4 linked regions of the Homo sapiens genome follow. The protein of the gene in region 1 purifies or fractionates together with the protein of each later gene. This does not show direct contact. Each region holds a gene or a part of one and is shown in the gene's direction. Other genes may lie near its edges.

What was found.
Region 2: the proteins of TMEM108 (region 1) and METAP2 purify together in Homo sapiens (affinity purification with mass spectrometry; 2 studies listed by BioGRID and IntAct, with this or other methods). This does not show direct contact.
Region 3: the proteins of TMEM108 (region 1) and PDXDC1 purify together in Homo sapiens (affinity purification with mass spectrometry; 2 studies listed by BioGRID and IntAct, with this or other methods). This does not show direct contact.
Region 4: the proteins of TMEM108 (region 1) and TBC1D9B purify together in Homo sapiens (affinity purification with mass spectrometry; 2 studies listed by BioGRID and IntAct, with this or other methods). This does not show direct contact.

The regions. Positions count from the first base shown.
Region 1 is NC_000003.12:133,033,814-133,041,405, forward strand, and holds the start of TMEM108 (transmembrane protein 108 isoform 1 precursor), read left to right. Parts: upstream 1-4,577; 5' UTR 4,578-4,622; intron 4,623-7,592. UniProt on the Homo sapiens protein: Transmembrane protein required for proper cognitive functions. Involved in the development of dentate gyrus (DG) neuron circuitry, is necessary for AMPA receptors surface expression and proper excitatory postsynaptic currents of DG granule neurons.
Region 2 is NC_000012.12:95,469,988-95,477,163, forward strand, and holds the start of METAP2 (methionine aminopeptidase 2), read left to right. Parts: upstream 1-4,164; 5' UTR 4,165-4,192; coding exon 4,193-4,343; intron 4,344-6,083; coding exon 6,084-6,191; intron 6,192-7,176. UniProt on the Homo sapiens protein: Cotranslationally removes the N-terminal methionine from nascent proteins. The N-terminal methionine is often cleaved when the second residue in the primary sequence is small and uncharged (Met-Ala-, Cys, Gly, Pro, Ser, Thr, or Val).
Region 3 is NC_000016.10:14,970,653-14,978,032, forward strand, and holds the start of PDXDC1 (pyridoxal-dependent decarboxylase domain-containing protein 1), read left to right. Parts: upstream 1-4,373; 5' UTR 4,374-4,547; coding exon 4,548-4,568; exon of another isoform or gene 4,569-4,932; coding exon of another isoform or gene 4,933-4,980; intron 4,981-7,380.
Region 4 is NC_000005.10:179,904,877-179,912,134, reverse strand, and holds the start of TBC1D9B (TBC1 domain family member 9B), read left to right. Parts: upstream 1-4,237; 5' UTR 4,238-4,313; coding exon 4,314-4,431; intron 4,432-7,258. UniProt on the Homo sapiens protein: May act as a GTPase-activating protein for Rab family protein(s).

The DNA.
Region 1 (7,592 bases):
TTGTCTGGGTTTACACAGCTGGAGGAGCTGGGATTTCAACCCATACCATGTAGCCCTAGATTTTACTCATAATCACTATAACAGAGTTGAATACTATGATTGATTATCTGCCATATGTACAGGAGGAGGGAGGAATGGCATATCATGCATTTGCAATTTTTCAATTCTGGTCTTTGCCCCACCTTTCAATCATCATTTTTTCCCCTTCTCCTGTTAAACCCAGTTAAATAACACTACTTTCTCTTTCCCAATGCTCTATGCTCTTATGCTTTCATGTGGGCTGTTCCCTAGGCCCAGAACACCCTTTCTTTTGCCCTTTGCTGGCATCTTAGTCCATTCGGGCTGCTATAGCAAAGTGCCATAAGCTGGATGGTTTATAAACAACAGAAATTTATTTTCACAGGTCAAGAGGCTGGAGATCAGGGTACCAGCATGGACAAGTGCTGGTGAGGGACTTCTTCTGGATGACAGTCTGCTGACTTCTTATTGTATCCTCACATGGCAGAGAGCAGAAGCAAGTCTCTGGAGACTTTAAAAAGGGCATTAATCCTATTCATGAGGGCTCTACCGTTACAACCTCATCTAATCCTAATTACCTCCCAAAGGCCCCACCTCCCAACATCATCCACTGGGGATGGGAGGTTTCAACATATGAATTTTGGGGAGAAACAGTCCACAACACCTGGTTAACTCCTACAACTCCGGAATTCAGTTCACGTATAATTTCTTGCAGAAAGCTTTCCCTGATTTCATCAGTCAGAATTGGTACTCCATCTCTACGCGATCTTACAGTGTTATGCGCCTCGCTTGTAACATAAAAGTTTTTATTTTGAATTGTGGTAGCTTACCTCTCTTAAAATGAGCTAAAAGACAAGGCTCATGTAGTGTGTTGATTGAAAGAATGAAACCTGAATCCTTACCTCATCTCTGCTCCAAACTGTTGTTTTCTGAAGCTTACCTGCTTCCCACGTCCAGTTTGTAATTGTTAAGACACAGGTTTTGAACCACAGGTGATTTCCAGCTTTCTTAGCTTTTTCTTATATCAGTTTGGAATGTCCAAACATTTTATTCAGTAAGACTTTTGCCCATTTACACTTGTATTGCCTATTACATGCATGAGATAGGTGTTCCTTCCATAAACCATTATCTCTCCTTGGTGAATAAGCTTGCAAATTTTGAAATCTCCATTTAAAAAAAATCAGCTTGTTGGGAGGGGCACATGAGGTCTTCAACTGTATGTATAATGCTTGATTTCTTAAGTTGGGGGAGGTACAGAGAGGTATATATTATCTACACATATTTTAAGTCTAAATTGTTTTGTGAAAATATAAAAGCGAATATTAATATTCTTAACATTCGTTATAGAGAATATAAAGAAAACCAAGTTTTCTACAAAAATGCCTTGTGGTTGGGTTAAATCTGTACACAGTCACAGTAAAGGGATAAAAGTATCAGTTATTAAAACACAGATACATAGACACAAAATGTTATCCTGCCAGGATTTGTATGACAGATGGAGACTAGAACCTTGGGTAATCTATCGGTCTTCATGAATGAAATCAATTAAGTTTAGAGAAGCTATTTATTGTCAGAGAGATAAAAAGGTAATTAGCAATTATAAAGCAGTCTATGGGGGTTCTAATAATAATACAACAATGGGTGGATTTCTGGGACTTGGCAAAATGGTGGATGGCTTATATCTTATCTTTTTCTTTCTTTTCAAATATACCTAAATCTCTTGCTGGGCAATTTCTGGACTAAGGGGTAGGAAACCTGGTTTGAGCTAACTCATATCAAGTTACTAATATATCCATTTCCCAAGACAGGAAAACCAGGTTATATGTATGAGGCAAGTAGACTGAAAAACAGAGGATGAACGACAGCCTGGATTTTTTTTTTCAAATTCACATCCTCAAGCAAGAGTCTTTGTTTCTTGTTGCTTCTTTCTGTAATAATGACACCCACAAAGAGAAAAATAAATGCTTTTTTCCTAGTTAAAAATTTACATTACTCAGTTAAGTAGCAGTGAAAACTGTCCTTGTTTTACTCAATAGATAAAGCAAGTTTACAAGGTGAGAAAAATTTCTCCCCCATTTGAATGCTGTGAAATATATTTTTAAAAGTGTCACAGAAGGAGGGAAGCTAGTTTGCAGGCTCACACATTGGGCTTCCATATTTCTGGTGTCACAAATAAAGTCACTTTTGAGTAGGATGGCTGGTGTTGGTAGAATGTTCTGAGGGATCTCACTAATTTAGTTAAAATCTAAGTAGGTCATATTCCACTACATTGAATATCACACCATAAAAAAGTTGTACAATAGTTTTCCAAGGTGCAGGCACTAATCACTTTTAAAAAGTAACAGAATTTGGTAAAACGCCAGTAAAGAGAATTGGGAACCCTTGGAATCTTTGAAATAGACTCACCTAGGTGATGGGTTGCTAGGTGCAGCAAACCACTATGGCACACGTTTACCTTTGTAACAAACCTGCACATCCTGCACATGTACCCCGGAACTTAAAAAATAAAAAATAAATGCTCAAATGGAAATCTGTTTTAGTTAAGAAGGGCATAAAACAAGTAAAGCTATTACCAGAGAGTTTATCAGTTTGGCATGGTTAACAAAAGGCAATACGTTCTTTTAGAAATATTTAGTTAATCAATTGAAATTAAACCTAGTTGTGAACCTAGCTTTTCAATTTATTCCATTGACTAGTCTTTGGAGTATTTATTACCTATGAATTATTTTTGGCCTTTAAAAATCAGTTCTCAAAAATTATGTGGAAACTTTCTTCTGTTTTCAGAGTGTGTATGTCATTAGTGATTTGTGTTGCAGAGTTTAGTTTTCCCTGTTAAAAAATGCGTCTATCGATCTAGCAGCTTATGCAGGTGTTCTCAAGCATGGATGGATATCAAATTGCCAGTAGAACTTTTTAAACCTATAGCTGCCCAAGCCCCACTTCTCATCCCAATCAGAATCTCCAGGCACAGGGCCCCACAACCTACTTCCATAAATACTTACCATCCAGCTAGGCTTGAGAACCACTGGTTTAATGACAGCAAACAAACTTTTTTTGAGGCTTTCAAAACATTTTTCTTGCTTAGACATTTCTTTACTCCTGCTGTAGCCAGAACCATTGCTGTGACAGGTTTAACATGTTCCCAGAAACTCTGAATTTTGTGCGATGCCATCTCTGATAGGGACAATGTGATGAACAATGTCTGAGATTGCTAGGTGGGCTTCACTTCTGGGGATGAGAAGCCAGAGAAGTTCAGGACACACTGACAAAGGTGAAGTTTTCTCTAAGCGACAGTTTGATCACCTTGATAGTGAGAGAGAAATGCTGAAGCAGGGTTATACCACCTGGTTTCAAGAGATGAGAGATGAAGGTTTTGGAGAATTCAGCACTTAAGAATCTTGAACCACGGCGGTACACTACTGGGTAATAAGAGCTTGGCTACGCTGAACGACAAAGGTTCTAGCTGGCCAGTCCGAAAACACTGAGTCCTTAGGTCAAATTTGAGAAATGACAGGGCCAGTGGGAGTCCTAACTTCTAGACTCTGGAATTACTGACAGAAGAATATTTGGACAGTTTTTAAGACCCTCAAGGCATATTATTTTACAACCTCTTTAGCTTATGCCTGAATTTGTGCTGTGACTGTTAGCTTCCCGGATGTTTTCTCCACATGCTTCTTTCTGAACTAGCCTGTATAGTTCTACAACAAATTGTTACGTTTTGAGAAGCAGGGACCACTTATACCACTTCTCTGGCCAAGTGTCTGGCACCGCGCCACTCAGACACACACGCCCAACCCTTTAGGATTAACGTAGACACAGTGTTCTCTTCCATGGCCATTCCGTCTCCACTTCTGGTTCCACACTCCAGTCACCAAGTTGGCATGATTGCTGCTCCATAGACCAAGGGTGGGTAATGTGGGGATTAAACACACCTTCCCTCAGCTGGTGCCCAAACTGTAAGCATCACCGGGACACCCCATGTAGCCACAGGAACGCTTCTCATCAGTGGAAGAAGGACAAGAAAGGTCGTGCAAGTTTCAAATTACGTGGAGCTGGGGCTACAGCCATTACTTTCGGACAGGTGCAATTCAAAGCGTGATCCTCCGACCAAGAGCTTCGTCATCGCCACCTGGGAGCTTATTAGAAATGCAGGATCTCAGGTCTCCACCCCAGACCTTCTGGATCAGAATCCGCATTTTAACAAGAGAGTCAAGTGATTCTTATTTATATTAGAATTTGAGAAGTCAATTGATCTGGTAATTGATCAACTGAGTGCCACTTAGCCCCCGAAAACAGAGACCCTTTGTGCCCGCCTCGCACCCGCTCTGCTAGGTAGCAACCGAACCCCCAGAGACATCGGAGCGGGCGCTGCCGAGGGCAATTTGGTGATTGGCTGGTCTCACCACGTGACCGGCGCTGAGCCTTCCGTGCGACCGGATTGGCTGTCGCGGACGCTGACGGACAAGGCCGGGGCGGGCCAGAGCCTGGTCGGAGGGGCGCGCGCGGGGGCCCGAGGGGCGAAGGCGCGAGTGCGCGAGAGCGCGTGCGCGAGCGGTGGGGCTTTCTCCTGAGCCGTCGGAGGGAGCCGGAGCGCTTCTCCCGAGGTAAGCGGCGCTCCGGGGCGTCCCCCCAGTCCTTCCCATGCTGGGTCCCGGCAAGCGGGTTAGGCTGGGCTGGGCGGGGCTCGGGGAGGTGTGGGGTCAGCTTGCCCCGGGAGCCCAGCTTCAGGGAGGATGCAGCCCCGGTTGCCTTGGTTTCCCTTTTCCTATCCTCTCAGGCACCTTCCCATCCTCCCCACTGCGTGACGGGTCTGCCCGAGGGGAGTTGCCCACCTGGCAGCCCTGCCTCCGCCTTTGTTTCCCGCCTGGAGGGTTGCTGGCATGAACCCCCTCCCCAGGTGGAGGGTGCGGGTGATGGGGCGCGGGCGTCAGGAGCGCTGGACCTGGGCTGGGGCCGAGGAGGAGGTGGCTTTAATGCAGGGGGACCTGTCACATGGGGAAACGAAGAAGAAGAAATGTAGTGTCACTTTGGCCAGCCCGAGGGACTCGAACTAATCCTGCGGCCGCGAGCGGAGCCGAATTCCTAGCGCAGCTGTGCGAAGAGCCCTCCTGCCTAGGTGCCGGCGGCCTCGCCGGGGACGGAGCCTCCGTGCTGCCCGGGAGGTTGCTCTGCCGGCTGGACCTGGCGGTTTTCACCCCAGAGTTGCAGCGAAATTGAACGCTTTGAGCCTGCTGGAGGAATCCAGAGATTGGTTCAGGGGCTATTTTTTTTTTTAAGCAGTTGGGCACCGGTGGAGCCGGTCTAAATGAAAGTCTACAAAAACCAATTTCAGATGCAGCGTAACTGATGACTGGTAAATGGTGAGGAGGGAAATGCCTGCAGTGAACTGCAGACCACCACACTGAGATTCTTCCTTAAGAAGATAGGGGTTTTTTTCGGAGGAAAGGTTGTAGTTTCTGCAAACAGGTTTTTCTGGGGGTACCCAGGAAGGTTATTACTTATTTTCAGCATGTTACTGGGTTGTGGGGAGAGGGAAGGCAGGGTCTAAACTAAACCTACTCACACGTCCTTAATTCTTTGAAAAGTGTGTGCTCGATGAAGACCATTTGGCTGCCAAAAGAGGTTTGTATGGGAGTCCGGGGGAGATGGATTGTTGCCTTTAAATCATACTTTAAAAAGGGGAAGGTATGTCCAGGAACTTAAGAGCAGGTCAAGCTATGGAAAGTATTCCCTGCCTCTCCTCCATTTCCCCAGACAGCTCATAGGCAAACATAAAAAGTCCCTTCAATTTTCCACGGGTTAACTTCTTGATTTGTTGGATACACCTGGTAATCTACTCTGTAAGAAATGGTTCAACTAACTCATTATGAAGATATTACTGTGTTCTGGACTTTCCACGTAATTTATTCAGAACTCTTTCTGGTATGAGATGGATAAGGGTCTCTCTACCTTGTCCCTTGGAGACATCCTGATACCTTCAAAGCCCTTTATAGCTCTTACATTCCCTGTACAACAACATGTTTCTTTAGGAAATGACCTGATTTCAAACCTCTAAAACACACCCCATGCCTGTGAAATGCCTACACTTGCCAAGAATTCAGTTTACTAGGCAAGATAAATATATTTTTTTAAGAGGGAACACCTAAATTTGTTAGGGGTATCAAATTCAGGTTTATCAGCCACCGGAAATCAAATTTTGTCGGTTTTCTGAGATGAATGAAAGTAAAAGAACAAGTTGCTGCAAAGCTCATTTAGAATATCACAAATGACCCTAGTAAAGTGAAATATAGGTTGTCACCTGATAGACTTCACACAAACCAAATTAGTGGGAATAATTTAAAAACTTTATCACAGTTTTTTTTGTTTGTTTGTTTGTTTTTTTTTTTTTTTGAGACGGAGTCTCCGTCTGTCACCCAGGCTGGAGTGCAGTGGTGCGATCTCGGCTCACTGTAACCTCCGTCTCCTGGATTCAAACGATTCTCCTGCCTCAGCCTCCCGAGTAGCTGGGATTACAGGTGTGAGGCACCATGCCCGGCTAATTTTTGTATTTTTTAGTAAAGACGGGGTTTCACCAGATTGGCCAGGCTGGTCTTGAACTCCTGACCTCGTGATCCACCTGCCTCAGCCTCCCAAAGTGCTGGGATTACAGGCATGAGCCACCATGCCGGCCAGAAAATTTTTTTTTTTAAGTGGCATGGAGTAGAGGGGAGAAAAGAATGCTGAGGGTGAGGTAGGTGGCATAGTATACACTTTTATTTTCAGAGGAGAGAAATTAATCTTTGTTCCATAAACCGCAAAGGGTATGCATTGTTTGTTTGGCCTGCGGAAGGGAGGCAGGGATTTTGAAAAGGTTGGGAAACACTGATTAGGTTATGCAAGGGACAACAAAAAGATTAACAAGCTTAGTCCATCTAGCAACGTACTTCAGTGACCTATAGGACAAGGTTTTATTCTCTGATTCAATAAAAGCCCACTAGTGTTGCTTTCAAAGCAGCAACAAAATCATTTCCTTTCTGTCGTTTCTGTCCCCTGGGTCAGGGACGGGGAACATAGAGAGTGAATGAGAGAGATTAGAGTCCGACCTGCATGCCTAAGCAGTAGTGTCCTCTGAGGAGGATCTGTGTCACATTGTGTAAGTATAAGAGCCTTCATATTGAGAGGGATCTGAGTACCTTCCTTAGGACACATGCTGTAAGATACAGCTGGATAACAGAGCCACAGGTGGGGGCACTGGGTGAGATCATCTGATAGGGAAGCATTGGGGAAAGAGGAGAGCCAGGAAATGTTTAATTCAGTGGGGCTCTGCTGGCTGCTTTTGGATCCTTGAGGAGGCATTTCAAGGCAGAGCTGCCTCATTGGCTAGCCTGGCTGGCTTTATGTGGCTTCCAGAGGACCTGCCATTCACAAGATGAAAGCTCCTGTGGTAGTTACACGTCTCAGGTTGTAAGCATCAGTTATGCTTGTAATGTGCTTGAGAAAAGAAGGGCTCACAGAGACCTAAATCTAGGCTGCCGTTCCTTCACTTGGCTCATGTCACCCCCCAGGGCTCCCAGAAAACAAGTTGTACCCTCCTT
Region 2 (7,176 bases), on another chromosome or scaffold:
TGGAGTGCAGTGGCACCATTTCCGCTCACTGCAAGCTCCATCTCCTGGGTTCACGCCATTCTCCTGCCTCAGCCTCCCGAGTAGCTGGGACTACAGGTGCACACCACCACGCCTGGCTAATTTTTTGTATTTTTAGTAGAGACAGGGTTTCACCTTGTTAGCCGGGATGGTCTCGATCTCCTGACCTCATGATCCGCCTGCCTCGGCCTCCCAAAGTGCTGGGATTACAGGCGTGAGCCACCGCGCCCGGCCTGAACTAGCAGCATTTTAAGTGCTCAGTGGCAACGTGGTAGGTGGCCACCATGCTGTGCAGTACAGGTAGACTCTCATGTCTAGATCCACTTGCTGGATGATCTTATCTGTGTCAAAGTTCCAATTCCCATCTATTAGTTGATGACTCAAATTTTTATATCTGCTCCAACTATTCTTTTGATCTCCAGTTCCTTATAGTTATCCACCTTCTTCACAGCTCCACTTTAATGCCCCAAGACACCTCAGACTCAGCATGTCTCACATCTAACTCATAATCTTCCCTTTCAAATCTGAAATGTTTTTCTATCTCTGTTATTTACATTACATTACCAGTCAATCCAGTTTCACCAGCACACACCGAAGGGGATTCCTTGATATCTTCTTCTCTCTCAAATCCCTTATACAATTCATCACCAAGTCTTGCCCATTTTATCTCCCACATATCTCTTAAATCTATTCATTTTTTTGGTCATACCCATCATCATTCCCTTTCAAGCCACTATAACCTATTGACTGTAATAGCCTCTAAACTGATCTCCCTGCTTTCATTCTGGCCACCCTCAACTCTACTCTGTACACTGCAGCCATGGTGATCTTTTCAAAAATCTAATCATGTTAATTGCAACTCTCATCAGGTTAACTGTCTCCTCACCATTAAAATACTTAAGGGGGCTGGACACAGTGGCTCATGCCTATAATCCCAGCACTTTGGGAGGCTGAGGAGGGCGGATCACCTGAGGCCAGGAGTTTGAGACCAGCCTGGCCAACATGGTGAAACCCCGTCTCTACTAAAAATACAAAAATTAACTGGGTGTGGTGGCGCGTACCTGTAGTCCCAGCTACTCGGGAGGCTGAGGTGGAAGAATTGCTTGAATCCGGGAGGCGGAGGTTGCAGTGAGCCGAGATCATACCACTGCACTCCAGCCTGGGCGACAGAGCAAGACTCCATCTCAGAAAAAAATAAAAAATAAAAATAAAATACTTAAGGGAGGTAGGTGGATCACCTGAAGTCAGGAGTTTGAGACCAGCCTGACCAACATGGTGAAACCCTGTCTCTACCAAAATATACAAAAATTAGCTGGGTGTGGTGGCATGTGCCTGTAGTCCCAGCTACTTGGGAGACTGAGGTGGGATAATTGCTTGAACCCAGGAGGTAGAGGTTGCAGTGAGCTGACATCACGCCACTGCATTCCAGCCTGAGCAACAGAATGAGACCCTGTCTGAAAAATAAATAAAAAAAGTAAAATAAAATACTTAAGAGTTTTATATTGTTCTTAGGACAAAGTATAAAGCCCTTAGTATGATCTAAAAGGCTCTGTCAGCTCTCCTACCCTTTCCTTCCTGCAAGGCTCTTACCTTTCTAGTCTCATCTCATCACACTCACTCCCTTCTCCACCTCTTTGCATTCCAGCCATTCTGGATGTTTTTTAGTTCTTTAAATGTGTTATACTCCCTACTGTTTTACAGATGAGAAAATCAAGGCTCAAAAATATATGGGCTGTCCAGAGTCACAAAATTATAGCCAAATGACCATTCTAGTATTAGAATCCATGTCTCCTCTTAAATACCTCTTAAATTTTTCTTTACCTTCCCTTTGCCAAGAATACTCTGCCAGGCGCAATGGCTCATGCCTGTAATCCCAACACTTTGGGAGGTTGAGGCAGGTGGATCACCTGAGGTCAGGAGTTTGAGACCAGCCTGGCCAACATGGTAAAACCCCGTCTCTACAAAAATTAGCTGGGTGTGGTGGTGGGCGCCTGTAATCCCAGCTACTTGGGAGGCTGAGGTAGGAGAATCGCTTGAACCTGGGAGGCGGAGGTTGCAGTGAGCTAAGATCAGGCCACTGCACTCCAACCTGGGTGATAGAACGAGACTCCGTCTCAAAAAAAAAAAAATACTCTCTCTAAACCTTTCCCCTCCCCTTTGCCTATTTATCCTTCAGATCTCAGCCTAATTGCTACTTCCTCAGGAAACTCTACCAGGCCATCCTACCTAGGCAAGTCCCTTTGTAATATGCTCTCATAGCAGCAGTTGTAAATTTGCTTTTATTAGCATCATTGCTTGATGTCTATTTTTGTTAACTGGCTCTATGATGACAAGGATCATCTCTGTTTTTGCTCTCTAAATATTGCCAGATCTAGGTTTATAGTAGGCATTGAACGAATGGATGGATGAGTGAATAAGTGAATATGTCAGCCAAGCAAAGAGCAGCCCAGATAAAAGTAACAGTGAGTTTGAAATGCTCCAAGGTCAGAAAGAGCTTTGAGAGCTGGAGCTATAATAGTAAGAGAGTGGAGACATTGGAGAAGTAGATATGGCTGGGTCTTGCCGGGCATTTTAAAGGATTTTGGACACATGGAAGCTACTTCTATTTTTATTTTTGTGGTATTATGTTTGGTTTACCAACTTTTTATTTTTTATTTTATTTACTTTTTTGGGGGGGATGGAGTCTCGCTCTGTCGCCCAGGCTGGAGTGCAGTGGCGCAATCTCAGCTCACTGCAACCTCCCCCGGGGTTCAAGCGATTGTCCTGCCTCAGCCTCCCTAGTAGCTGGGACTACAGGCGCCTGCCACCACGCCCGGCTAATTTTTGTATTTTTAGTGGAGACGGGGTTTCACCATATTGGCCAGGCTGGTCTCGAACTCCTGACCTTGTGATCTGCCCACCTCGCCCTCCCAAAGTGCTGGGATTACAGGCGTGAGCCACAGCGCCCGGCCGGTTTACCAACTTTTATATTGCCAGCAATCAACTAGGGAAAACAATTTAAAATCTAAATAGGGATAGATTTAAAGAGATAAAGATCTGTACAAGAATAAGAGGAACAGTTTTTATTACTATTGGATAGGTGCTGCCTGAAGCTTTAAGACAGAGAATGTACATTTATGCAGCTGCAGTCAGAGCCTGTGTGAGGTTTACTGTAAACTCACTGGCAATAAGGCTCTTAACGACATTTTGATGCCCATGAAGCTTGGTGCCTAGTTTAAAACTAATGAAAACACCTAAACTCTCCAGGTGGACAAAGCCATATTCAGGAGAAATTGAGAAGGAGTTGGTGCAGGCAGCCAATCACAATCCACTTACGCCACAAACTAAATCTCAAACTGCGGTTTGAACATGAGGCTCAAAACATAAGAAGTAAAGAAATGGGCAAAATTCAATTAGTTTCTGGTGAAACGTCCTAAATCCAAAAGAAAGGTGACCAGAAATAGAGAAAACGGAGTGTGATCTTTTGCATTAATGAGAGAGACCGTGTCCCCGTGTGTTAAAACCTGTCATTCTTGTCCTGAATTGGAAAGTGAGCGGAGTGTGACGGGTTCCCATCTTGAACCGTCCGGGGTTGAGTAGTACAATAAACTAACACGGAACTCCAGCTTCCAAAATTCTCTCCAGTGCCTACAGAGCCTCGCGGAGAGCTGTGATTGTGAATGTCAACGCAGATTTGATTAAATCTCTTAGATTTAAGAGATATGTGGAGTCATGACAATAGAAATGTGTACAAGTGAACACATTTCTTAGCCCGTTTCCCCACTGCCTGTGTGATTTATAAAAACGCAAATATAAAATATTTCCGTTCCAGCAGAGACGCCGCTTGCTACGGCGGGTTGCCCGTCTCCACAGGTATCTCCGGCTGACTCTAGAGCTCAACTTCCCCTTTAAACTTCACCCTGCGCTTGCCGATTTGCTTCGGGAATGCCCGAGGCACCGGACGAAGCAGTCGGGTCTGGCCCCAGTCGACTCCAGCCAGGCGGGGCTCCAAGCCGAGACTCCTGCACGCCCGGCCCGAAGCTAGCCCGACACCCTCAGCTGAGTCCTCCGCCGTCCCAGCATTCCCTGCGTCCCTACCATCGAGAGCAGCTTCCGGCGTGGCTGGTGTAGGCGGGTGGAGAAGGATCGGGGCCCTCGCCGCTCTGTCTCATTCCCTCGCGCTCTCTCGGGCAACATGGCGGGTGTGGAGGAGGTAGCGGCCTCCGGGAGCCACCTGAATGGCGACCTGGATCCAGACGACAGGGAAGAAGGAGCTGCCTCTACGGCTGAGGAAGCAGCCAAGAAAAAAAGACGAAAGAAGAAGAAGAGCAAAGGGCCTTCTGCAGGTAAAGAGAGTTTTATGTTTTCCCAGTCCCCTCCGGGAACGGCTGAACTGTTTGGCTCAGGCCCGTTGAGGGGGCCGGGACCGGGGCCCCAGAGCCCCGACTAGACTGATTCTTGGGCCTGACAGGGTGGCAAAGCCGGGCTATAGATTCCTAGTCTGAGAAGAGGCGTCATCTCCTCCTGTGGGACTAGAGGGCTGGTGGGGGAGAAAAGAGTGCCTGAGGTTGGCGTGTGGTACCTCTGGGGTCGCTGGGCCCGAGCCCCTGTATTACCAGAACTCAGCTCCCACGCACATCGTGGCACGGTCTTGAGATTGTGCGCAGAGCACAGCCCTACCATCTTTCGCGCGATTTGGCCGCCGCCTCAAAAATCCGATTCTGATCCGTATTGCCGCGTCTTTGCTGGTTTGCTGGAGCAAGCTAGGACTTATTTTCTTTGGGGGTGGGCAAATGTAATGGAGAGCACACCTCCTCCCACTATCCCGTTTCACGTTGGGGTTGTTGCAGCCTGCACTTTTGGGGTGTGTGTACATGTGTGTTTGCCCGCGCGCTCATGTCATTAATTGCAGAATTTGTGGTGGTGATAACGAATTTTCACCTGCCTAATCCCATAGCATCGCCAAGCTTTAGGGCCTTTAGACCTGAATTATGATACCAATTGCAGGCAGTGCAGATAGGATATTCTGTGGCTCAGAATGGAACTTCTGAGGTCTTAACCTCTAAATCCACTGGTAAGGCAAGGAGAACTGCTGAGAGTTTACAGTTGGATATTATGAACTAGGAACTTACATATTTTGAGAAGTCTGTGTTTTTGCTGCACAAGCTCCTTCACCTTAATAAAAATTATTTTTACTTGTTTCTAATTAAAATCGCCAGAGAAACAGAAAATGGAGAAGTCAGAAGCGATTAAGATGGAATTGAGAGAGGTCGAAGAGAGCTAATCTTCATCTTTCTGAAATTTTGATTAGATAGGAATGGAAGGAGAGTTGTAGCGTTGCTGGAACTCTTCCAGAGCAAAATTTGTTACTCTGGTGGCTGTTCCTGGATTTCGAGTGAAATTCAAACACTGCTGTTTGTCTTGTAAGGTGTTAAGCTGACTGATCCTAATGTATTTTTAACAGTTGTATTTCTTAATATGAATTCTCTCCAGTAGCCAGAATGTCACTTCATTTCGTGCTACCTGATACTATTAATGCATGTAACATATTGCTCTTATAGGTAGGTTATAATCACTTCCAGAGCAGGGGCCTGGTCTTGTGCTTAGATATTTGAGCGTTTTAGTTTTTTAGTAATGGACTGTCTTTGCCTATTTATTTTGACTTTACCCAGCCCATCGTGATATCCTTATTCATGAAACCAGGCTGCCCCGGGGTGTTGCACATGAATCTTTTTCCTAAGGCCTTCAGCATTTATTACCTATCTGGTGTTTAAGTATTTGTTAAGTCTAATTGCTGACCACTATTACAAGTTAAACTACTTGAGGATAGAGACCAGTTCACGCTGTTTATCTTTTAGCTGCTAGTGTGTGTAATGGATATTTTGTTGAGTAAATTAATGAATGGACAATACTGTGTAGGTATGGAAGATTTTTCTGTCATTAAACGAATTCTGTTATGTTCACAATAATGTTTCTGTTTTTGTTTCCTGAGGAAAGGATTTGTAAGTTTTCCAAGATCATTAGAGCATATTCTAGTGGGAAAGTGTCTGTATTAGATTTGATTTCTGCTATTTTATTTTGATCAGCAGGGGAACAGGAACCTGATAAAGAATCAGGAGCCTCAGTGGATGAAGTAGCAAGACAGTTGGAAAGATCAGCATTGGAAGATAAAGAAAGAGATGAAGATGATGAAGGTAAATGGTTAATTTGATCTTTGTGGTTAGAAAAGCTAGAAAATGTAGCCGGGTGTGGTGGCACACACCTGTAATCCCAGCACTTTGGGAGGTCGAGGCGGGTGGATTACATAAGGTCAGTAGTTCGAGACCAGCCTGGCCAACATGTTGAAACCCCATCTCTTCTAAAAAGACAAAAAAAAATTTAGCCGGGTGTGGTAGCACACACCTGTAATCCCAACAACTTGGGAAGCTGAGGCAGGAGAATTGCTTGAGCCCGAGAGATGGAGGTTGCAGTGAGCTGAGATTGCACCACTGCACTCCAGCCTGGCCAGCAGAGTAAGACTGTCTCAAAAAAAAGAAAGAAAGAAAGAAAGAAAGAAAAGCTAGAAAATGTGATATTCCTTAATCAAAATTTATTTACTCGTATAGTGTTTTCTCTGACATTTCACTTGTTACCTCAATTAATGTCACAGATTAAAAAGGAAAAGGTATTTATTAGCAAGTCTTGAAAAAGTTCAATGTGTTAATTAGCTGTTCAGATAGGACAGATCTCAGAGTTTAAAAATATACTTGGTAGAAGGCAAAGTAGTGAGTATTAATAAGATTGAGGGGTTGTTTATTTAACTAATACTTACTGAAGAACTACTATGTACTAGATACTTTCCTAGGTTATTTTCACATACATTCACATTTTAACCTCACAAAACCAAGCAAAGTAACCTACTTGTGCTTAGATATCCATTTTGTTTTTTGGTAATGGACTGTCTTTTCCTATTTATTTTGACTTTACCCAGCCCTTCATGGCTTTACCCAGCCATCTCATTTTACAGATAGGGAAGTGGTAGTTACATGATTTACCCAAAGTGACATAGCTAATATGTGTAGAATAGAGCCAGAATTTCAAACCTAGTGCCTGACTGCACGTTTGTTCCTTTTACTCTCTATTTTTTTTTTTCTTTTTGAGACCGAGTCTCGCTCTGTCGCACAGGCTGGAGTGCAGTGG
Region 3 (7,380 bases), on another chromosome or scaffold:
TGGGAGGTGGAGGTTGCAGTGAGTCAGCGAGACTCTGTCTCAAAAAAAAAAAAAAAAAAAAAAAGGCTTGCCAGCTGAGTGCTGAGGAAATCCAACAATGAAACATTGGGTGGAGGAGGAGGAAACTCCAAAAGACATTGAGAAGGAACAGGCAGAAAGGGAAGGTGACGATCCGGAGAATTTGATATTGTGGGAAGCATGGAAAGTCAGTTTCAAGAAGAAAGTGATCATCTGGTTCTAGGGCTGCTGAGAGGTCAGGTGTGATGGACTGAGATGGTTTTAGTGACACTGGTTTGGGTGGAGGGAACAAGGCCGAAGCTAGATTCAGATGAGTTGGTGGTGCTTGTGTGATGAGAAAATTGAGACCATTAGGTGTAACCAGAAGGGGATGTGGATGAAGATAAGGAGTTTTTATTTGCTTGTTTTTTGAGCATAAGAATGTTTAACAAACACTAAAAGGCAAGCATAACCAGAATTTTACAGATGAGGAAACTAATATACCAAGAGGTTAAGTAACTTGCCCAAGTAGTTTTCACTTATACAGCTTAAAAAAAAAAAAAAAAAAGAATCCAGTTCTACTTGTAGCCACAGTCTGAACTCTAACCAATGGGCTATACCATCGACAAGGGAAAAAACTGGCCCAGACATAATCCAATTTTTGTACCTTTGAGTTAAAAGTCTACAGTTGAGGCTGGGCCTGGTGTCTCACGCCTGTAATCCCAGCACTTTGGGAGGCCGAGGTGGGTGGACCACCTGAGATCAGGAGTTGGAGACTAGCCTGTCCAACTAGTGAAACCCCGTCTCTACTAAAAATACAAAAATTAGCCAGGCTTGGTGGCACGCACCTGTAATCCCAGCTACTCAGGAGGCTGAGGCAGGAGAATTGCTTGAACCCGGGAGGCGGAGCTTGCAGTGAGCAGAGATGGTGCCACTGCACTCCAGCCTGGCGACAGAACGAGACTCCATCTCAAAAAAAAGGAAAAAAGAGAAGTGTTTGAGGCCAGGCTCGGTGGCTCAGGCCTGTAATCCAAACACTTTGGGAGGCCGAGGCAGGAGGATCACTTGAGGTTGGGAGTTTGAGACCAGCCTGGCCAACATGGTAAGACCCTGTCTCTACTAAAAATACAGTGTGTGCGATGGCGCACGCCTCCAGTCGAAGCTACTCCGGGAGGCTGAGGCAGCAGAATCACTTGAACCGGGGAGGCAGAGGTTGCAGTGAGCCAAGACTGCGCCGTTACACTTCAGCCTGGACAACAGAGTGAGACTCGTCTGGAAAAAGAAAAAGAAAGAAAAAGACAGGTCTGTTAGCAGCACATAAAGCCATATGTCAGTAGAGATTAAACCTCCCCACAACTGATGGCTTCATGCTCCAAACTGTACAATATTCTGCTTATCTCTCTTCACTAGTCCATAGAATGTTGCATTATAATGTATCAGTTTTCCTATCTGTGCATCCACAAGCCAAATGGTTTCAACTTTTTTTTTTTTTTTTCGGGGATGGGGGAATCACAGACTTGAGTATATAATGAAGACAATGGATGTTTTCCCCAGAAAAATGCACTCACTCACACACAAAATGTTGAGTATAGTTTCAGAGACCTCCATCTGCATCCCAAAGTAAAAACTTCTACCCAAAATAGTGTTTTTCTTCAGGGCAGAGAGCTTGTCTTTGTTTTGTGTGTGTGTGTGTGTGTGTGTGTGTGTGTGTGTGTGTGTGTGTGTGTAGACGGAGTCTTGCTCTTGTCGTCCAGGCTGGAATGCAGTGGTGCAATCTTGGCTCACTGCAACCTCCGCCTCCCAGGTTGAAGCGATTCTGCTGCCTCAGCCTCCCGAGTAGCTGGGATTACAGGCGCACACCACCACACCCACTAATTTTTCTATTTTTAGTACAGACGAGGGTTTCACCATGTTGGCCACGCTGTTCTCCAACTCCTGACCTCAGGTGATCCGCCCACCTCGGCCTCTCAAAGTGCTGGGATTACAGGCATGAGCCACCGCGCCCAGCCTTTTTTAAATTTTTAAATTTTTTATTATATTTTGTTTTTGAGACAGAGTCTCGCTTTGTCGCCCAGGCTGGAGTGCAGTGGTGCGATCTCTGCTCACTGCAAGCTCCGCCTCCCGGGTTCACGCCATTCTCCTGCCTCAGCCTCCAGAATAGCTGGGACTACAGGCGCCCGCCACCATGCCCGGCTAATTTCTTTTTGTATTTTTGGTAGACACGGGGTTTCACCGTGTTAGCCAGGATGGTCTCGATCTCCTGACCTCGTGATCCGCCCGCCTCGGCCTCCCAAAGTGCTGGGATTACAGGCGTGAGCCACCGCGCCCGGCCCAGCCTCTTATTTGTATTTTTATTGTTTTTTGAGATGGAGTCTCGTCTTATTGCCCAGGCTGGAGCGCAGTGGCACAATCTCGGCTCACTGCAACCTCTGCCCCCGGGGTTCAAGTGATTCCCCTGCCTCAGCCTCCCAGGTAGCTGGGATTACAGGTGTTTGCCACCACGCCCAGCTAATTTTTTGTATTTTTAGTAGAGACGGAGTTTCACTCTGTTGGCCAGGCTGCTCTTGAACCAGCCTCTTATTCTTTTACATACTATTTCCAGCACAACTGTCCAAGATGGCAGTCAATAAATGTTTGGCTAAATATAATAAATAATACGGTTGATTATTTCCACTTTTTCATGTTGGGTTTTCAAAGTCTACTTTTAAAACAGTAAAGTTAACTTTTCTCTCTAGTATTTGTTTTGTAGAATCTATTATACTTTGTAATGTAATCCACAGAAACTTGGAGGTGACTTTAGTAAAATTTACTAGTTTTGAATGATACCCATGCTGAGGTGCTCAGAGGTGAAATGTACTAACATATATCGATGGATGGATATATGGATGCATATGTGATTAAAGCAAATATAGGGAAAATTAACTGTAGAATCTAGGTAGTGGGTATATGGTTGTTCACTGTACAACTGTTTAAACTTTTCTACGTTTGAAAAATTTCATAACACGTTGGAAAAGTGACTTGTTTTGCTCAAGCAGGGGTACATTCAATCTTCAATTCTTGAAAGACATAAATCTATCTTTCCTTCTGTTTGGAAAGCTCTTTAGAGAGTCAGAATAATCCCCACAGTACAGTCTAAACCAGCACACAAGGGTTTTTTGGTAGAAAATAATTTTATTAACATAACCAGGCAATTTACCAAATACAACGTAGATAGCTCAAAACATGGAGTTACTGCGCTGAAAATGTGACCCTGTTTACACAGATTTCGGGACGAAGAGTATAAAACAGGAGAGAAAAGGAGTAAGATTGTGGTTGTAGCGTCATCGCAGAGGTGAAGTGTTCCATTGATTGCCACTGTGGTAGTCTATATCAGTTTCCCACATTAAGGTGGGAGGAATCTACTAAGCAAATGTACGCCCTCCCCATTCGTTCGAAACACATTGCAGTAAAATTGCAAAAGTGGCCGGGCGTGGTAGCTCATGCCTGTAATCCCAGCACTTGGGGAAGCTGAGACGGGAAGATCGCCTGAGGCCAGGAGTTTGAAGCCAGCTTGGGTAACATAGTGAGACACCCCTACCTTCTCTATTAAAATGAGATTTTAATTTTTTTTCTCTTCAGTTCATCGGTTAACAAGATAAAAAAATTAATAAAAAATTAACTTTTTAAAACATTTAAAGTAAAGTAGGAGTGGAAGCAGTATGTGGACTCATGGGGCTTGGGTCTGAATCCTACCTAGATCGGCACTGCGAAATGGGGATAATGATCTCCTAGAGCTGCTGAAATAGGAAAATGGAAGAACAGCAGCTGATGTATTAATATTATCATTATTACTACTACCCATTACCTGACAAGTGATAATTGTGACATGAAAGAGGCTGGACCGGTTGTTACAACAATTTTTTCCGTCTAGAATTCGGCGGTAAGGTCTGAGACAACACCTCAGCTTAGATCAGTGCCTTCTCTGAACAGCGTTCACTAAGCAGCCCCCAACCCCAAAACCCCCAAGTCCCCGGGCGCCGAGGACGCTGCGAGTCCTGCGCATGCGCAAGGTTGCCCACTCGCTCACCGCCTCCTTGGCGAATGGCCTGTTCCATTCTCGAGGGATGCCGGCGGGAGGTGAGGCGGGAGACTTGGAAGCCTGGGCCCGGAAGTGAGGTGCGTCACTAGTATTTCCAGCCTTTCACTCCATGAATAGTACTTTGTGATTATTATACTTCTACCTTGATGATTGCAACAGGCTGCTGGAAAGAGTTTGGTGAACAATCCACCGGGCATCCTCCCCCCTTCACCTGCGCACGTTAGGGAGGGCCGGCGTGGCGCCCAGGTACGGAATCCCAGAGGGCTCCGCCCAGCGCTACGGGGCCCCGCCCCGCCGCCTCTCAACCATCAGGTTCGGCAGCCCGCGGCGCCGCCTGGCAGCTCCTCCTCTTCTCCGCCCCGCCGGCCGCGGGCGCGGGGGACGTCAGCGCTGCCAGCGTGGAAGGAGCTGCGGGGCGCGGGAGGAGGAAGTAGAGCCCGGGACCGCCAGGCCACCACCGGCCGCCTCAGCCATGGACGCGTCCCTGGAGAAGGTCCGTGCCGGGAGGGGGCGATGGGGACGGTGCTGCGGCCCGGGGCTCCCGCTTCCGAGGCAACTGTTTCCCAGTCGCGAGCTGCCATTGTGACCCGGACAGGGGGACGCGGGCTGACAGGCCCTGCCTGAGGAGGCCTCGCCGGGAGGGCGGCTGGGGCCCGGGCGCGTCACGGGGCCGGGTGTCTCTTGGGTCCCCGTGGGCCGAAGAGGCTGGGCGGGGTTCGGTGGGGGCCGCGACGGGCCCGGAGCCCAGGACTGGGACCGCGGGGCCGACCTTGGGCCCTGCCGAGGTTCCGCGAGTGGCCGGCCTGAGCTCGGCTGGCCCTTTCGGAGGACCGGGAGCTCTCCGTTGGCGGCCCCAGATGCTCCCGGAAAGAAGCCGCAGTTATTTCAGAGCCAGCTGCAAACCTGTAGGTTTTTCTTGGTCTCCGAGTTAGGAATGAAAATTGCCAAAGCAGTGGTTTTCCAACTTCAGCCTGAGTGGGAATCACCTGGGGCCTTTGGTAAAATGCGGAGGTTCAGTCCCGGGGTCAGAACCTCTGGGGGCGGGACCGGGAACTGCGTGTTTAACCGCCACCGCCCCGCTCCCACTCCGCCCCACGCAGGTGATTCTGATGCTGAGCCTGCGATCACCGGGCGAGAACCTCTGAGTTCCAGAAAGGGGTGGGTGTTGCGTAGATTGCGAATTGAGTTTTGGGGATCGCAGCTGCTCCACAACTTCCTGGCTCCCCCATTCCAGTGGCGAGGAGGGATCCCCGAGTCAACTCGAAATCCACTGGTAACAGAGCCTACCTCTGGTTTCCCCTTGGGGGAACGGCAGCGTGGTGTACCAGGCTGACTGCTCTACCATGTGAAACGGATTCTCATTGTCCCAGTGTTAGGGCTTGTAAATGGAAACCAGTTTGGGTTTCTTCACGGATTCCTGCTTTCGGTACCTGACATTCTGCCCTCCCTCAAAGCCCTTCTGTCTGTTCCAGCTTGGGAGTCTGCTTGTCCAATCCAGTGCATACCCGGTTTTTCATGCATGTGGCATTCAGGAGCAATGCTCGTGTTTTAAGACGGCTACATTTTAATTTTGAGCTGGTAGGAATAATATATTTTGTCTTTTTTCAAGGCAGCAGCTGCTGTAGATTTTGTTCACTTGTCACTGGAGAGTTGAAGGCAATAATTGTAAAGGTTGGGCCAGATGTCTTCATGTGCTCACAGTGGTATAGCCTACTCCTGGGTTGCTTAGCATAAATTGGGTGGAAGACAAGAAAAAGATAATATGGTTTTCTTGTGCCATCTCTGGGGTGAATGTTACGTGTTTTCCTGGCTGGGAATAAAGTCTTTCCGGTCGTCTGATTAGCAGGGTGTCTACCTTTTGGTACTTTGAGTTTGTCCAGATGAGTGGTTCTTAAAGCAGGGGGCAATTTATTTCCCCAGGAGACATTTGGCTATCTCTGGACATAGTTTTGATTGTCACAATGGGGGCAGGGAGGTGCTGCCGGTACCTAGTGGGTAGAGGCCAGGGACGCCTCTAAACATCCTACGTTGCACAGGACAGCCCCCCACGCTGGAGAATTCTCTGGCCCAAAATGTCAGCAGTGTTGAGGCTGAGAAATCCTGGTCAAGATCATGTTTATAACACCAGCAGTTGAGTACAAAACGATGCAAAGTGGTGTTATCAATTTCCTAAGAAGGTGGGTGGGCTTCATGTGATTGTAATTGGAATCCTGAAGAACTGGGGTGATCTTTCCTCCAGGAATAATTAGCCTTTATAGGAAAATCTGCAGGGTGGGTCAGAATCCTGCTTTAAATATTACTTTTCTGGCATTTGATCAGTAGGTTACAGTAGTTGCTCCCTAAGTGTTAATTGATGATAAAAGATCTTAAACTCTCTCAATGAGGATCGCAAGAGGGACTGAAATTCCAGTGTGTTTAATATTGGAGCATTCACAAAAATTGTAGTGATCTTTTAGGAATTCAGAACGTGTGGGCTGGAGGTTTCTGCCTTAGGTCAATGTGAAAATTCTGAGTGTAAGTTTTTCAGAACTATGGGACTTACTTTTTTTTTTTTTTTTTTTTTTTTTTTTGAGAGGGAGTCTCGGTCTCTTGCCCAGGCTGGAGTGCAGTGAGGCGATCTCGGATCCCTGCAACCTCCGCCTCCCGGATTCAAGTGATTCTCCTGCCTCAGCCTCCCGAGCAGCTGTGACTACAGGCGTGTGACACCACACCCGACTAATTTTTGTATTCCCAGTAGAGATGGGGTTTCACCACGTTGGTCAGGATGGTCTCAAACGCCTGACCTTGTGATCCTTCAGCCTCAGCCTCCCACGGTGCTGGGATTACAGGCGTAAGCCACTGCACCTGGCCGGGACTTAGATTTATATTCCCTGAAGTAATACAGGGCCTTAGATGGAATAAACGATTTATATTGGTGCTAATTGGGCAGAAAAGAAAAAGCATTGCTGTAATATGAATGTTGATGACTTTATGTTCTGAAAAATAGTCTGGGTCAAAGTGAAACATTTAATTGTGTTCATTATTCCTGTTTCTTTGAGGAATAGACTATCCTGCGTTAAATTCTACATTGTTAATATAAACTCAAGAGCTATGTGAGCAGTTGTAAATGATCCCATTTAAACTGATTGTTGCATAATTTATACTGATTACAGAAACCACAATGTTATTTGATGCTCACCCTCTAAAATTTAAAATAATATCTCTCACTTTAAAATGTATGTGAAAAAACAAAAACAAAATGTAGTATGCGATCATCATTTAGTAGAATCACTCAGTGATTTGGATTTGGTCCAAATATAGTTCTG
Region 4 (7,258 bases), on another chromosome or scaffold:
AAGATGGCGTACAAAACTATTTTTCTAACTATAGCACAGGTAATGTGGGGGTGGGGAGGCTTGGGATATACCTAAATGTGGCAAATGATTTATCTTCCACCTTGAGGGATGAAAAGGAAACTATGCACTTGAATTTTAATTAAAATTTTAATTTAATTCATTGGATAGCTTGTGCCAGAAAGAACAGTCAATATTCAAGAAGCAAAACTGACGATTAGCTCAGTTTCGGGCCTCCCTGTCGGGGGAGTTTTCTTGTCTGGAACACAAACACCTACAAGTAGAGTGTGAGCTGGTTCTTGACAATCAGATCTCATCAACCCTTTGAAATGTTCTGGGCAGCACAGCTCCTTGGTCTGCATGGTTGGTGTAAGTATAATCAAGTAGTGAAATTGTATGGTATATACCTATATGCCAACAGTGTACACCCGTATGTGCAGAATTTGCTAATATAACCATTTCAATAAAAACCTATTGAAAAAGCTGATTTGACCACATGGAGTATTGTTGGTGGTGACGTGTATCACTGAGGACTCTCTTGGTTACAAATGACAGAAAACCCAGCCAAAACTGGCTAACACAAAAGGGGAATGTCATGGCTCCCAAAAGCCAAAATGCCCAGGGGTGCCTATGTCAGGCTTGGTGTGATTTCACCCTCAAATGCTGACACCAAGACACATGCCAACTTTGCTCCTCATTGGGAACCCCATCCCCAGGCTCAGGGTGGCAGTAGCTCCATCAACACAAGAGCCAGTCCCCAGGAGGTGGCCCAGGTCAGGACGGTATTTCCCTGGCCCAACTGACTTGGTTGGAGGCACATGGCCATCACCAGCCAGCCCCTGTGATCACAGATAGAATGCACCGATGGCCTCAGCTGGCATGGGCTCCACCTTCACAGCCCAGGAGTCCATGTGTCTTCACCTGACAGACAAGAGCTGAGCGTTCTAAGGCACGGTTCCCACTGCAGAAAAACAAACGACACTGCACAGACGGGAGAAGTGAATGCTGGGGGCAAAGGCAGCACGTGTCTGACACGTGTGGAAAAGCACTGGAGCCAGAGGCCGGGTGCAGTGGCTCACGCCTGTAATCCCAGCACTTTGGGAGGCCGAGGCGGGCAGATCACTTGAGGTCAGGATTTCGAGACCATCCTGGCTAACATGGTGAAACCTCCTCTCTACTAAAAATACTAAAATTAGCCAGGCATGGTGGCACGCACCTGTACTCCCAGCTACTTGGGAGGCTGAGGCAGGAGAATCGCTTGAACTTGGGAGGCAGAGGCTGCAGTGAGCCAGGATCATGCCACTGCACTCCAGCCTGGGCGACAGAGTGAGACTCCGTCTCAAAAATAAAAAAATAAAAAAATTTTTTAAATGGGCAAAGGACATTTCTCCAAATAGACATTTCTCCAGATAAAATATACAAATAACCCAAAAGCCCATCATCAGTCATCAGGGAAATGGAAATCCAAACCACAGCGAGATACCATTTCCCACCCTCTAGAAATGAGCATCAAAAAAAAAGAAAGACAATAACAAGTGTTGACAAGATATGGAAAAACTAGAACTCTTTTTTTTTTTTTTTTTTTTGAGACGGAGTCTCACTCTGCTGCCCAGGCTGAAGTTGCAGTGGCGTGATCTCGGCTCACTGCAACCTCCACCTCCCGGGTTCAAGCAATTCTCCTGCCTCAGCCTCCCGAGTAGCTGGGACAAGCATATGCCACCACGTCCGGCTAATTTTTGTATTTTTAGTAGAGACGGGGTTTCACCGTGTTAGCCAGGATGGTCTTGATCTCCTAACCTTGTGATCTGCCCACCTCGGCCTCCCAAAGTGCTGGGGTTACAGGCGTGAGCCGCCGCGCCCTGCCTAGAACTCTTACACCCAGCTGGTGGGCATGTGGAATGCTACAGCTGCTTTGGAGCGCAGTGTGGTCACTGCTTAAAAAGTTAAACATAGCTGTACCACATGACCCAACAATACCACTCCTCAATATATGCCCAAGAGAATTAAAAACACATATTCACACAAAGACTTGTACACATGTTCATGGCAGCATTATTTATAATAGACGAGGGGTAAACAATCCAAATGTCCATCCAAATGAATAAAATGCGGTGCATCCATACCGTGGGGTACTATTCAGCCATAAGGAGGAATGAAGCATCAATACGTGCTACAACGTGGGTGAACCTCGAACACATGATGGGAAGTGAAAGAAGACAGACACAAAAGACCACATATTGTAAGGTTCCATTTATATGAAGAAATGGCTAGAATGGGAAAAATGTATAGAGACAAAATAGATTGATGGTTGCCAGGGCAAAGCCGGGGGGAAGTGGGGAATGGCAGCTAATGGGTAAGGGGTTTCTTTTGACTTGATAAAAATGTTCTGGAATTAGTGATGATGGATGCCCAGCCTAGTGAATATACTAAAAACCACTACGTTTTGCACTTTAAAAGAGTGAACGTTACGGAATGTGACTTATATCTCAGAAAATCAAAAAGAAGTAAGCTTAGCACGCACATACTAAGTGATCGATAAATGTTTGTTCTTTTTCTTCTTATAAAAAACCATTCTCGAGGAGTGGTCTCCAGGTCAGCAGCATCAACATCACCTAGGAACGAGTTAGCAGTGCAAACACCCTGGGAGGGAGGGGGCAGCAACCTGTGTGGCTGTTTTTTGTTTTGTTTTGTTTTCAGATGGAGTCTTGCTATATTGCCCTGGCCGATTTTGAACTCCTGGCCTCAAGTGATCCTACCACCTCAGCCTCCCAAGTGGCTGGGACTACAGCAGCCTGTTTGAATCAGCCTTCCAGGTGATCCTAATGTATACCCAATTTGAGAACCACTGGGATTAAGGAACAAGACGACTCTTTACCTCCTCTCAGGGTGTTAAAAAGTGCAGTTCTTCCAAATTCTTTCCCTCTAGAGAGCACAATGACAATATTAGTTCAGACTTCCAAGGTGTTGAAGAAAGCCCGCCTCTGCATCTTGAAAGCTGATTCCTATATCCAGCAACATTGAAGAAGACTGCAGATCACTCTGGGTGTCAACTGCATGTACCTACATCCATCGCACCAAGATTCTTGAGTGCCAATCACAGAAACCCACCTGGAAGTCAGGTCCAGCTCCAAGGATGGTTTAACTGCCCCCTTCCCTTTGCCCTCTAGCCAGACCCTGGTGAGGGTTCCAGCCAGCAGGGTGACCCCACATCCCAGTCGACCCCGGACAGGCCCCAGGCCCGTTGTCCCAGGTGGAGTTGACAGCCCCCTCATGCAGAAGGCTGTGTGTGGACTGGCGCTGCCCCTGCAGGCCAACACTGGGAGACCAGGGACCCGCATTCGCCTGCAGCCAGCCTCACACTTGCGCAGAAGCCGCCACTGGGCCCAGGGCCAGTCCAGACCCCATCCCCAGGGCCGGCCAGCCTCTGTGACCCGTCTGTCAGGGGAGGGGCAGCACTGATTTCCAAGGATGCAGCCCGTATCAGGGCCTCCTGGCACCTGCCCTGCGCTGGAAGATTCTTCTAGTCTCCCGGCCCCAGTGTCAGAATTCTGAGAACTGGCCGGGCGCGATGGTTCACTCCTGTAATCCCAGGACTTGGGAGGCCAATGTAGGCGGATCACCCGAGGTCAGGAGTTCGAGACCAGCCTGGCCAACATGGTGAAACCCCGTCTCTACTAAAAATACAAAAAAATTAGCCGGGCGTGTTGGCGGGAGCCTGTAATCCCAGCTAAAGAGGCTGGGGCAGGAGAATCACTTGAACCCGGGAGGCAGAGGTTGCAGTGAGCTGAGATTGCGCCACTGCACTCCAGCCTGGGCGACACAGCAAGACTCTGTCGAAAAAAAAAAAAGAAAAGAAAGCTGAGAATTAGGAGGAACTGCAAACCCTTTCCAGGCGCCCTTTGCAGTGCTAACACGCCCCGGGTTGCACGCGCAACCAGCCAAAAGCCGCCAAACTCTGCTTCTTGACATCCTTCTCTCACACTGCACAGCTTTCAAAACGCCAGAAGCCCTGCTCTGCACAGCGGCTCCCCTGTCTGCGGACTGGGCCGTTCCGTTCTGGACCCAGGCCGGAGGCCGTGGGCTGCACCGCTCCAGGAGGCCAGGCTGGCGCGCGCCCGAGGCCGGGGCTGAGGGGGCGGCGCGGAACTCGGGCCGCGTGCGGGAGCGCCACACGCCCGCCAGGGGGCGCCGCCCGCCCGGCCCCGCCCCGCCCCGGCCCGCTCCGCACGCTCCGCTCCGCACGCTCCGCTCCGGGACGCCGACGGCGGCGGGCGCTTCCGTCTCGCGGGCCTCGGCCCGGTGCGAGCGGCTCCGCGATGTGGCTGAGCCCGGAGGAGGTGCTGGTGGCCAATGCGCTGTGGGTGACGGAGCGGGCCAACCCCTTCTTCGTGCTGCAGCGACGCCGGGGCCACGGCAGGGGCGGCGGCCTTACGGGTGAGAGGCGCGCGGGCGGCCGGGCCTGTGGGCGCCGCGGCTGGGCTGGCGGCGGGGCTGGCGGCGGGCGGCGGGCGGGTCCGGTTCCGGCCCGGCCTCGGCGCGTCGCGGCGGACACGCACGCCAGCGCGCGGCGGGGCGGGGGCGCGAGGCCAGGACCCGGGAGCCGGGCGCGGAGGGGCCGGGGCGGGGAGGCGAGGGGCTGGCGGGAGGCGAATGCGCCCTCGGCGGGCTCTCCTCAGGTCGGCTTGGGGCGGCCAAGTGGAGACCGGCGGCGGCTTCTGCCCGGATTCGGCGCCCGCGAGCCCCGGGGGCCGTGCAGCTTCCCGGGATCTCACCGCCGAAAGTTGGCGAGACCGCCCTGTCCTCATCCTCCACCTCAGTTTCCCCAGGTGCCTCTAAGGGGCCAGGTGACGCCAGCGCACGTTTTCTTTTGCCCTCTTCTTCGTGCCCATCTCACCAAAGTATCGCCCTTTTAGCAAGATCAGAGGTCCCTGGAGCTGGCCGCACCCCCATTCCCCCAGCTTCTCCTCCCCCACCTTTCCTGCTCCTGGCTGCTCTCAGAGCTGCGCACCCAAGGCTGTGGGTAGCGGCACAGGGTGTTCCTGCAAGCTCGCCAAGGTGGCCCTTTGTGGGCCCGGGTGCCACCATCACACAGGATGAAGCTGGACAGGCACCCTTGGAGTCGTGCGGCCTGTGGGATCCAGGGGAGGCCCACAGGCCACTCCCTCCGCAGGTGGTGTCCGGGGCCCCTCATGCTCCAGGGCCTGCGCCCAGCACTGCAGGAGCCCGGCTGGCTCGGGCTCAGTGCCTGTGCTCTTCGGGGCACCGACTGTTGCCCTACAGGATTGCGGTCCCAGTGTTGCCAGGTCGTCCAGTTTATCAAGAGCATTTTCTGTGAATCATCCTGATTTTCAGTGTGAGCAGCTAATAGCCAGATGCAGACGGAGGCTTCTCCTGGGCCACGTTTCTTCATGTGGAAGAGACTGTTCTGTTCCCAGAAACACTCAGTGTTCCCTTCAGCTTCGGGTTCCCTCCCAGTGGGCTTCAAGGATCTCGGGCTCCTGTTCTGGACCCGCCTCCTAGATCCAGCTGTTCAGTCGGCAGCCCCTGTGGCTAACCTCGAAGCTACTGCAAGCCCGATGAAGAAAGCGAGGGACCGGCACCTTTTCTTCCGCCAGCGCGCCAGGGTGTCATCAGCGCGCCAGTGTGTCATATTCGCTGGTGTACTTGAAACACTTGTGCTGTGCTCGGCAGGCTTATGTGGGTCGTCTCATTGAACGGGCGGGTGCAGGTGCAGCCCGGTCTCTGTACACCTCCTTCCTGCGGGCTCTTCTCCTTTCCACCTCACTCTCCGTGTCCCCTGGGACCGAGCTCCCAGGGTCCCCCCAAGGGAACCCTTCTTTGAACCCTCTCCCAATCTCTCCCCACTGCTAGGTTTGGTGTGTCCTGCTGTGCCCTCTGACAGGGCCTTCCCTGTGCCATCATGGGCATCGTGGCCTCCTGAGTACTGTCCTCCCTGAAGAGGAGCAGACAGGGATGTGGTTTTATCCAAGCCATCTATTAAAAACATGCCAACCTAGACTTTTCATTAAAGAATCTGAATAGCTAGCTTGGCCAACATGGCAAAACCCCGTCTCTACTAAAAATATAAAATTTATCCAGGCATGGTGGCACGCGCCTGTTATCCCAGCTACTCGGGAGGCTGAGGCACGAGAATCGCTTGAACCCAGGAGGTCAAGGTTGCAGTGAGCCGAGATGGCGCCATTGCACTCCACCTTGGGCGACAGAGCGAGACTATCTCAAAAAAGTATTAATGGACTATGAAACAAAAGTGTTAAAGTTGAATAACAGCAATAAAAATTGTTCTGACATCAACAGGAAAAATGGTAACAAAATATTTTCAGATCATGCCAAAAGCAGCACTTCGTTAAAAGGAAGAAAAAATTTCAAGTAAAAACAATAAACAGGTTTTTAGATTGCTCGATAATTCAATTAGTGAATCAAACAATGATAAAAGCTATATATTTCCTGCTGATTTGTCAGGAAATAGTGACACTGACAAAGATAGCATTACCTAAAATATAAAAGCAAAGATAGCGTTGCCACAGACTGCTTAATGTGTGTCATCTATCAAAGGGGTATATGTGATGAGAAGAAAAACTTGAAATGCCCTCAAATGTTTCAGTTCAGAAATGAAAAAACTTTATATTTTCCCAAATTTGACAATTCTAAAGATCGACTTCTTCAGTTATGATTTTTTGAGGCTAAAAGAAACTTCCTTAAACTGTCGGTAATAAAAAATCAGTGAGTCATGGCAAAGGGGAGACATTATCTTTCTGTTCTTGATATGGAAAATAATGTTGCAGAATCATTGTCCTGTGTGTGAAGAAGCGATGAGTACAGGACCAGAACTGTCCGGAAGACGTATTTCAGGAGACGCACATGGCAGTTAGGAAAACATTGTGTTGGTTTTCTGGATTTTGTGATATTTCTGATATTGTTCTTTTTTAACTTTAACGTGTAGCTCTGTACTTTCTCGGTCTAAAGCAATACTTGTTTTGTAGTCTAGTTTTGTATACGTAAAGAGGGCTTCCCAGAATTGTTTAAGCTCTGGCCCCATGAAACTTGTATCTGCCTCTGCCTGCAAGTGTTTCTGAGCCAGGAGAAGAAGCAGATGCTTCCAGGAAGAAGTAGAAGGGGATGTTTTTGATCGGGATCAGACACTGGCTGAAGGCCTTTGACCGCAGGGGTCATTCCGGACGTTTCCCTCGTTGGGCTGGACCCTTTGGGTAGCGTCACCATCCTGTCTGCCTCCGGCCAGACT